2 separate regions of the Homo sapiens genome follow, and region 2 is linked to region 1. The links come from fine-mapping of genetic effects on gene expression. A gene starts in region 1. The other region holds a variant in brackets. All regions are shown on one strand. Distances are between the middles of the regions.

Evidence for each region. PIP is the estimated chance that this variant, and not a neighbour inherited with it, causes the effect.
Region 2: its variant is fine-mapped to the expression of PRSS35 in lung (TOPMed, PIP above 0.99).

The regions. Positions count from the first base shown.
Region 1 is chr6:83,509,603-83,514,986 of GRCh38, reverse strand. PRSS35 (serine protease 35) reads right to left here and starts at 2,453. Exons shown (of 2, transcript NM_153362.3): 1 at 2,293-2,453.
Region 2 is chr6:83,565,823-83,571,206 of GRCh38, reverse strand. All of the region lies in intron 26 of SNAP91 (synaptosome associated protein 91), which reads left to right. Among named protein-coding and RNA genes, the nearest start is that of PRSS35, 56 kb to the right of the region's middle. The variant T/C (reference allele first, on the strand shown) is at 2,566.

The DNA.
Region 1 (5,384 bases):
AGATTTTATTTTAAAAGCATGTAAGATTCAGCAGGGGCAAAACTTTTAACTGGCTAATAATATACTAAATGGCTGTGACATAGGGAGACATATGAAATTTATTATATTTAGAAAACCCACCTACCTACAGGCCACAGAGCCCATCCTGATGAACTGAGGGCTGATAATGCTGTCTACAGTCAGACAATTTTCTGGCAGATAGTTTTTCAAAAACAGTTGTAGTGCCAGCACACTTCCAGCATGACCTACAGCACTGTTAACTAGTCCCCCAAATGTGCCACAATTTATTTCAATGCTAAGGAAAATCTTGAACCTGCCAAATATTTCACGTTTATCAAATACTTTATAATCCATTACTAAAGGATAAGCTCTCCACTGATTCTAGGCTGAGAATAAATGGCAAGAAAGTTCATTGACAGTGGGCCAATTTCTATTCAAAATATCATACCATAGCACTATTTTCAAGTTTAGTTTCATAAATGGAGACCAAAAAAATGTCTGCTTAAAAAGTTTGGCAGTACTTGAGGGAAAGGAAGATGGTAAAGTTACACAGTTGATTATTTTACAGTAACCCACAACTTCTGTTTCTCATCACAATAAAAAACAAAACCTCCCTTTGTTTGGGGGCTATTTTTCCATGACCTGTACATCTCAATTTGTGCAATCCTATGGATAAATCAAATTTTGGGTGAATGACATTAAAGGAACCCCAAGAGGACTCTTTCATATGCTGCCTTATGAAGTGCACAGCATATAGCTCTAGACTTATCTGTATTTTTCAAGTTGGCCTTTGAGAGCAAAGAATATCTATAAATAGGTATGCTACTTTTCAGGTTTTAAAGCATCTATGGTCACAATGTTTTTAGCTAACCCACATCAGTTTTACCTATACGAAGCTTAACGTTTTTTAGTTATAAAATAATAGCTTGCATACTACTAACTTAACTTTACTGTTTCCTAACCTCTCCATCTCAGATTTCTCATCTGCAAAGTTACCTCAGTGCTAAGGTAAAGTAGCTCTATCCTCCCAAATTCTGAGTCTGATCCTACTGTTAAAATGCAATATGCTTGTTTGATATTTGAGCATTGGGCAGAGGAAAATCATTTACCCAATGGAGAAAATTAACTCACACTAGCAATTGCTTATTTTAACATCTAATGAACACATACTGTATGCCAAGTATATGCTAAACAGTCTCACATTTTAAAACGTGAAAAAGCTTCTTAAAAGCATGCAGTTTTCCCAGCTATCTGGAAGAAAAATGGGGTACAGTATCCACATCTACCACTTCCCTCACTAAAGGAACTCCTCTAATATTTCCTAATAAAAATAAAATTCCATATGATACTTGGCCTCTACCTTCAAGCCTACATGTCTTATTTGGCAGGGATTTTAACATTCTCTCTTCTAAATTATAAACCAGATTCTAAGTATAATTCTCCAGCCAGCAAAATATGACTTTTATAATCCTCTGTGGAGACAAATGTACTTCGGATAAAATAAGAATGAATTTCAGAAGTCAGAAGGGTTAATAAGGGGTGAAAGCCCCCTAGACACAGCAAGCAGCTTCTTTTCAAATCAAGGACAGTGTAAAAATGTCAGAGCAATCAAGCGGGAGTGTTTCTACAACTTTTTAAAAAACCTTTTATTATAGAAAATTTCAAGACTACACAAAAGCACAGAGAAAAGTATTAAGTTGAGAGAAAAGTACAACCCCCATGTGCACATCACCAGCTTCAACTATTGTCAATATTTTGCCAATGTTTCATCCACCATCACCACCCCACACACTTTTTTTTTTCAGCTAGAGTATTTCAAAGCAAGTCAAAAGCTTTTCTACTTCATTTCGCCGCCTCATTTTCTAAACGTTTTCCTATGCTCCTTTTGCTGACCTCCGCAGCCAAGTTGATAAAAGGGTAGAGGGGAGAGGCTAGCTTTCATAGTAACCCCGCCAAAGAGACTTTTCAGGAATGCGTTTCATACCTTTCTCAATGGCATCTGTTAACAATCATAAAAATAAAGAGGGTCCCCTCTGGTACTGCTTAAGCAGAAAGAATTCCATTTATATTCCAATGCAAACATTGTTGTCGTTAATATTAAACTGTGCAGAGGCCGGCACACAGAATTGCCTATGGGAAGGGTGGTTAGTTTCTTTGAGGACTGAAAGAAAGTGTCAAGTTTGATCCCTTTCTTCAAAGTCCTTCAAAGAAGCTCTCCTCGGGTAGGTCCTGCCTTTCTCAGGGAAATTTCTAAGTTCTAAGGTTGTTGGGTTTGGGGAGCTTCATCTTTACCTGCCAGGCTTGTTTGGTCCCCGAGGGCACTGTCAGCTGAGATCAGAGCTCCCGAGGAGGCGGGCGGGGACGCTGCAGCTGGGAGCCTCTCAGCCAGCCTGAGCCGGAGGCCGCCCCGCCAAGGCCGGGCCACAGCACCCAGAGCTCGCCACTGAGACTGCGGAGGGGGAGAGAGCTGCGCCGCACCACGGCCGGGAGATGGGAGGGGAAAGGGGGCGATGACGAGGGGCGGGCGCGGTGGGATGGAGTGGGGGGAGGGGAGGAGGAGGAGGTGGGCAAGAGGAGACGGAGAGGGAGGGCGGAGAGGGGAGTTCCCTGGAGGAACGGGGCGGACCTGGCCGTGTCTCACCCCAGCATTTCTGCCCCCAAGCTGAATTAAGCATTAGGAAAAATTCATGAGTAGGTTCACAGGGGATGCCTGTCCCTGTAATAGTATGCACTCCTTTAACAGTCTCAGGAGTTGTTCAGTTAAGAGTCTCATTCCTCACTGCTTGCTGTTGAGACCCCAGGCATCTAGAAGAACGGAGGGCGTCTCCCCAACCTTATCCCAAGCTAGTCTCCACCGGGGACCTAGCTTCTCTGGATGCACAAGCCTCAGGGTTACCCCGACTTGTACCAGGCGCCCAGGCTGCACACGAGGATGGGGACCTCAGGCTGGGACGCCTGGACCCCCGGGAGCATCCTGCGCTGCCTCCAGGGGGAGCGCGTCAGTTTCCGTCTGCAGGGAAAAGGCTGGTTTTCCTCTTTGGGCGAGTAACCTTTAAGGTCCTTTCCCATCTCAGTCCCACCAGCATTCTAACCTCATCCGTTCTCTCGACCTTTTATTCTCCTTTAGGAGAGGGGTGGGGGCCACATGAGAAAGGAAGCTTCATTTGTTTAACAACAAATTCTAGTGGGTGACAGGTCTGGGGCAAGATGAACTGATACAACGAGAGAATACATAAACAAAAACAAAAACAAAAACAAAAAAACTCGGTCCTGGCCCTAAAGCAGGGAGATCGAGTAAGTGCACAAGTACTTACAACACAAGGTCTTAGCATGTCTTGTAACACTTGGTTCGTTAGTAGGTTATTGCGTATCTCAAGTTCTGTGTACTTTTAATGAGATTATAACATACTTAGCATTGTCCCTCGTTATACTCAACGGACTAGTTCCAGGCCCTCTTCCCCTCCGCCCCCCCATACTAAAATCATCCCATATTCAAGTCCAAGTCCAGCTGTGGGCCCTGGGGAACCCGCGTATAGGAAAAGTCTGCCCTCTGTTTAAGCATTTCTGCCTGAAAATACTGTTTTCTATCCGCTTTTGGGTGAAAAAAAAAATCTGTGTATAAGTGGACCTGTGCAGTTCAAATATGTGTCCAAGGGCCAACTATATATACAATTTCATTGCTGTTTTCTCATTTAGCATTGTTAACATAAGCATTTACCCATATATTAAAATCTATTGGTAATTTTTACCAGTTAGAATTAGTTCTGAAGCTCTCTGTCACCAATTAGATCATAATAGTCATATGCATCTTTGAATCACCACCATCTACCACAGGGCCTGGCATATAGTAGCTGCTGCATTAGACGTGGAACTAAAAAGTTTGCTAGTCAGATGGAGTGTGGAGAAGTCACAGAGAAAGTCCAGAACTCAGAATGGGAATTCCGCCTGACACTAAATAGCTGTGTGCCCTGGGCCTCCGCTTTTTCATCTGTAAATTGAGATGGTTGAGCTGGAGGAGTTCCAAGGCCTGCAGCTCTCAAACATTTTTGGGATTCTAACACTGTATAAATCCAGAAGGATTCACTGTGGACCCAGGTCTGCTTCCTTCACTTTATTCAGCATTCTCCACTAGCATCACAGAAAGCAAACTTCCAGGGCTCTTTCATTTTCATGCCCCCCTTCTTGAGCCTTTGACCCCAAGCCCTTTTGTACCCTATTTCTGGATCTATTCCAGGTTGTCTTATCATTAATTTGACTGTTTTCAAAATTTATCGCTTTACTTCATCTGGTCCTGATGCTTCGTATTTACTATTTCTCTAGTTCTAGGTTTCTGGCTTCTTATTTTTAAAAAATTTTAATTCATTAAATTTTTAGAGACAGGGTTTTTAAATTATCACTCTGTCACCCAGGCTGGAGTGCAGTGGCAGGATCATAGCTGACTGCAGCTTCAAATTCTGGGCTCAAGCAATCCTCCCACCTCCACCTCCCAGGTACACAGGCACATGCCATCTCACCCAGCTTTTTAAATAATTTCTTTTGTGGAAGCAGGGTCTTGCTATGGTGCCTAGGCTGGTCTTGATGTCCTGGCCTCAAGTGATCCTCCTGCCTCAGCCTCTCAAAGTGCTGTGATTACAGAAGTGAGCCGCCGTGACTGGCCAGAATTCTGGCTTCTCTTAAGCAGGATTTCCTCTCCTGGCCTAGTCCAGCCCCTCAGGTATTCTATAGCAAAGTATGAGCAGTTCAGAAACCATACCAAACTAGATTGTCAACCCATCAAATTCCTCATTCTGGACTTGTAATGATGGTCCTATAATTTTCCAATGCTTCTCAACCAGCTTTCCACATGGGAATGCAAACTTTGGATAATATAACTCTTACCATTTTAGGAAATAATGCATTATAGGAAATGTTATCAGTTAAAAAAAATAAACTCATAACAAAGTTTCCAGCCATGTCTCCCCAAGGTCCTAGACTTTATCTTCAATTATTGTGACTATTGTGACCAAAGACTTTATCAAATTACTTTTAATACAACCCAAATTCTTGGTTAATGCACCAACAAAACTGATAACTATCTGTCCTTTGTGAGGTCCCCAGCTTAATGGAGGCATTTGTATGCTTCTCCAGAAATGGAACCAAGAGGCCCAGAACACATCTTCTGTCACATTTCAGGTCACGAGGGGTGCAGTGGCCTCTCTAGAAGAGAAGCCATGACCACTGTCAGGCCTGGCTATGATTAAGGCTATACTACTTAGCTTTTTTTTCTGGACTTGCTTTCCCAAGAGGCTGAGACCAGAATAGAATAAATCTCTATCCAAGACTAAATCTTACTTATCATGGAAATGTACTTGGAAAGTTTTAGCTGTGGAAAGACAGGAAGAGGA
Region 2 (5,384 bases), 56 kb before region 1:
CTTGAACCTGGGAGGCGCAGGTTGCAGTGAGCCGAGATTGTGCCACTGCACTCCAGCCTTGTGACAGAGCGAGACTCCACCTGAAAAAAAAAAAAAGAGGTGGGCGCCCATGGTCCTCGGGCAGCTCCATCCCTGTAGCTTTGCAGGGTATAGCCCTCCTCCTGGGTGCTTTCACAGGCTGGTGTTGAGTGTCTGTGGCTTTTCCAGGACCATGGTGTAAGCTGTCAGTGGAGCTACCACTCTGGGGTCTGGAGGACAGTGGCCTTCTTCTCATAGCTCCACTTGGTGGTGCCCCAGTAGGGACTCTGTGTGGGGGCCCCCATCCCACATTTCCCTCTGCACTGCCCTAACAGAGGTTCTCCATGAGAGCCCTGCCCCTGCAGCAAACTTCTGCCTGAGCATCCAGGTGTTTCCATACATCTTCTGAAATCTATGTGGAGGTTCCCAAACCTCAATTCTTAGCTTCTGTGGCTCAACACCACATGTAAGCTGCCAAGGTTTGGGACTACCACCCTCTGAAGCAACAGCCCAAGCTGTCCCTTGGCCCCTTTGAGTCACAGCTGGAGCAGCCGGGACACTGGGCACCAGGTCCCTAGACTGCACACAGCACAGGGACCCTGGGCCCAGCCCATGAAACCACTTCCCCCCCCGCCACCCCGTAAACCTCCAGGTCTGTGATGAGAGGGGCTGCTACAAAGTTCTCTGACGTGTCCTGGAGACATTTTCCCCATTGTGTTGGTGATAAACATTCGGCTCTTTGTTACTTATGCAAATTTATGCAGCTGGCTTGAATTTCTCCTCAGAAAATGGGATTTTCTTTTCTGTCACATTGTCAGGCTGCAAATTTTCCAAACTTTTATGCTCTGTTTCTGTTTTAAAACTGATTGGCTTTAACAGCACCCATGTCACCTCTTGAATGTTTAGCAGCTTAGAAATTTATTCCACCAGATACCTTAAATCATCATTCTCAAGTTCAAAGTTCCACAAATCTCTGGGGCAGGGGCAAAATGCTACCAGTCTTTCTGCTAAAACATAACAAGAATCACCTTCACTCCAATTCCCAACAAGTTCTTCATCTCCACCTGAGACCACCGCAGCCCACATTTTCCCATCTTCTTCTGAGCCCTCCAAACTGTCCCAACCTCTGCCTGTTACCCAGTTCCAAAGTTGATGCCTCATTTTTGGGTGGCTTTTCTGCAGCGCTCCACTCTACTGATACCATTTTTACCATATTAGTTTGTTTTCACACTGCTGATCAAGACATACCCGAGACTGGGCAATTTACAAAAAAAAAGGTTTCATGAACTTACAGTTCCACATGGCTGGGGAGGCCTCACAATCATGGTGGAAGATAAGGAGGAGCAAGTCACATCTTACATGGATGACAGCAGGCAAAGAGAGCGCTTGTTTGGGGAAACTCCCCCTTATAAAACCATCAGATCTCATGAGACTTATTCACTACCACAGGAACAGCATGGGAAAGACCTGCCCCCATGATTCAATTACCTCCCACCAGGCCCTCCCACAACACATGGGAATTCAAGATGAGACTTGGGTAGGAAGACAGCCAAACCATATCATCCAGGTTTCTGTGTGAGGCAGTTTGCCAAATAATGAGGCCACTAACCCAGAAGGGAACAAGGGAAAAGCACTTTAAAAGTAATATTAAGTTGAAGAACTTCCTTGGCCATTACCCACCCTGAGATCAAGACTTAACTGTGCAAAGTTAAGAATTCATCAAGTACTTAATTAACAACTGTTTTGCATCTTTAGGATAACAAAGCTGCTGACTGATTGGTAGGCACTTTCACAGACTGAGATTGTCTCATTTTTTTAACCCCAAAACTCTTTATTTTTGTTTATGAAGCAGAAAAATTTTAATTATTGGTAATTAAACCCCAGAAAGTGAAATATGGAAAGTTTTAGCATAAAGTATCCACAGCAGCTACGGAAAGAGAAATTAGAACAATAGAAACTATTTGTTACAATAAAGAGTTACATAAAGTTTTATTTCTTTTATTTTACTTAGCATTTTACACCACAATATACAGGCTCTCTTATGCATAGTTATTTTATCTTTATTAATTCTTAGTTTTATCTATATTCTTTTATATAGATACTCCATTTTATTTTTTACAAAGCTGTTCTTTCCTAACAAAGCTGTGGCTTTGCTTTTACTTAAGAAATTATTCTGAGGGAACTATTTCAGCTTTCTCCAACATACCTTTACACCCTGCCTCCCCAGTTGATCTCTTCCAACCTTCTATTCCTTTATAGTCTCTTTCTAGGAATACTCAAGGAAAAGAAGCTAGAGACACCAGAAACAAGTGCTTCAGAAGCAGCAAAGCAGTGTTTCCAAATTTTCCTTGTAATCTACAGGTCTTTGCTATTGAGAAGGAGATGAAGGATGCAGATTTGGGAAGGGGAATCCTTTTGCTGCCTTTTTAAAGTTTTTATTGATAGATAAGCAGTAAGATTACTTTTCCCCACTTATTCCAAATTTCCCTTAATTGCTTCTTAGAGGTGTAGCTATAACACTTTTCAGATCACAGAACCCAAGTTAGA[T/C]CTAAAAACCTTAGCAGGACTTGAATATTGAACTACGTCTGCTGGCAGGGCTCTGTCATCATGGCCATCAGGAGCCCTGTGCTTCCTGGGTTACTTATTCCTGTTTTACAGTGCACAGCAGACCTATTAAGTTATTATTATTATTATTATTATTATTATTATTATACTTTAATGTGCACAACGTGCAGGTTTCTTACATATGTATACATGTGCCATGTTGGTGTGCTGCACCCATTAACTCATCATTTACATTAGGTATATCTCCTAATGCTATCCCTCCCCACTCCCCCCATCCCACAACAGGCCCCAGTGTGTGATGTTCCCCTTCCTGTGTCCAAGTGTTCTCATTGTTCAATTCCCACCTATGAGTGAGAACATGCGGTGTTTGGTTTTTTGTCCTTGTGACAGTTTGCTGAGAATGATGGTTTCCAGCTTCATCCATGTCCCTACAAAAGACGTGAACTCATCCTTTTTTATGGCTGCATAGTAGTCCATGGTGTATATGTGCCACATTTTCTTAATCCAGTCTATCATTGTTGGACATTTTGGTTGGTTCCAAGTCTTTGCTATTGTGAATAGTGCCACAATAAACATACGTGTGCATGTGTCTTTATAGCAGCATGATTTATAATCCTTTGGGTATATAGCCAGTAATGGGATGGCTGGGTCAAATGGTATTTCTAGTTCTAGATCCCTGAGGAATCACAACACTGACTTCCACAATGGTTGAACTAGTTTACAGTCCCACCAACAGTGTAAAAGTGTTCCTATTTCTTCACATCCTCTAGCACCTGTTGTTTCCTGACTTTTTAATGATCGCCATCCTAATTGGTGTGAGATGGTATCTCATTGTGGTTTTGATTTGCATTTCTCTGATGGCCAGTGATGATGAGCTTTTTTTCATGTGTCTTTTGGCTGCATGTCTTCTTTTGAGAAGTGTCTATTCATATCCTTCACCCACTTTTTGATGGGGTTGTTTGTTTTTTTCTTGTAAATTTGTTTGAGTTCTTTGAGGATTCTGGATATTAGCCCTTTGTCAGATGAGTAGATCGCAAAAATTTTCTCCCATTCTGTAGGTTGCCTGTTCACTCTCATGGTAGTTTCTTTTGCTGTGCAGAAGCTCTTTCGTTTCATTGATCCCATTTGTCAATTTTGGCTTTTGTTGCCATTGCTTTTGGTGTTTTAGACATGAAGTCCTTGCCCATGCCTATGTCCTGAATGGTATTGCCTAGGTGTTCTAGGGTTTTTATGGTTTTCGGTCTAACATTTAAGTCTTTAATCCATCTTGAATTAAGACCTGTTAAGTTTTTATCGAACAAGTGGGAAGACATTTGCAATTCAGAAATATGTGCATTTTGCAGGAAGATCACTGTTAAAAGAAAAGCTTTAGACAAAATAAATTTAACAAAGTTGAGCTGGATGCGATAACTCACCCATATACTCCCAGAAACTGAGGCGGGGGGATCACTTGAGGCCAGGAATTTGAGGCTAGCCTGGGCAGCATAGTGAGGCCCCATCTCTAGAAAAATTAAAAAGTTAGCTGGGTGTGGTGGCACATGCCTGTAGTAAGAGCTATATGAGAGGCTGAGGCAGGAGGATTGCTTGAGCCCAAGTGTTTGAGCCTACGGTGAGCTATGATTATGCAAGTTTAACAGAGTTTATTTAAGTGAAGAATGATCCATGAATCAGGTACCTCTCGGAAACAGAAGAGGTTCAGAGAGCTCCAGCACAGCAGTGTGGACCATGAACTTTTATTGGCTGATAAAGAAGTACAACAAAATATATTTTGTTGATCAGAATAGAAGGACCATAATTAGAGGTTAGTTGTTGATCTCTGCTTGATAAAGTCTCCAGTTAGAATCTGTTCGTTGGCAATTTCTGATTGGTAAAGTCTCTAGTTTCATTTTATTATTTATGTTGGGCTTCATTTTGCTTACATGAGAACTCAAGGTGCTAGAGCTGCACCAGTCAAGTGGCATCCCAATTAAAAACTTATCACCACTGAATGTAAGAGTTAATCTACCATTTCAGCAAAATGACTAACTCAGACAATTTCTTCAAACTATTTGACCATTTATTTGATCAGGAATTTCTGCAGGTTCATTTTGCTTTTAAAGCTAATAAAGCCCTTTTCTCTTTCATAGCCTGAAGTCCTAATGATGCAATTCAGGTCTGGTAAATAGCCTACCACCTACCCTGTTGAAATGATGGGTAAAGCATTAATATGAAATATAATTTTATAGGTATTTTCTTTCTTTTGAAAAAATTTTTATTGAGATAAAATTCACATAACATTTAAATTCACTATTTTAACAACTTAAAGTATACAATTCAATGATTCTTAGTATATTTACAGCATTGTGAAACCATCACCATTATCTAATTTCAGAATATTTCCATCACCCCTAAAAGAAACAGTCCCTTTCAATTTCCCCTTACCCTTAGAGCCTTTTATGCCTGGCTTCTTTTACTTAGCATAACATTTTCTAGGTTTATCCATGTCGAAGCATGTATCAGTACTCCATTTTTATGGCTGAATATATTTCATTTTATGGATATACCACATTTTGTTTATCCATTCATCAGTTGATGAACACTTATGTTGTTTCTATTACACATAATAGATTTTTATTATCATATATGAGTTTCCATATGAGCGTATATCCTCAGTTCTATTTGGAATATACCTAGGAATAGAACTCTGGGTCATGTGTAAGTCGATGTTTAACTTTTGAGGAACTGCCAAGCGTTTCCATAGCAGCTACATTATTTTACATTGCCACCAGCAATACATAGGGTTTCAAGTTCTCTATATCCTC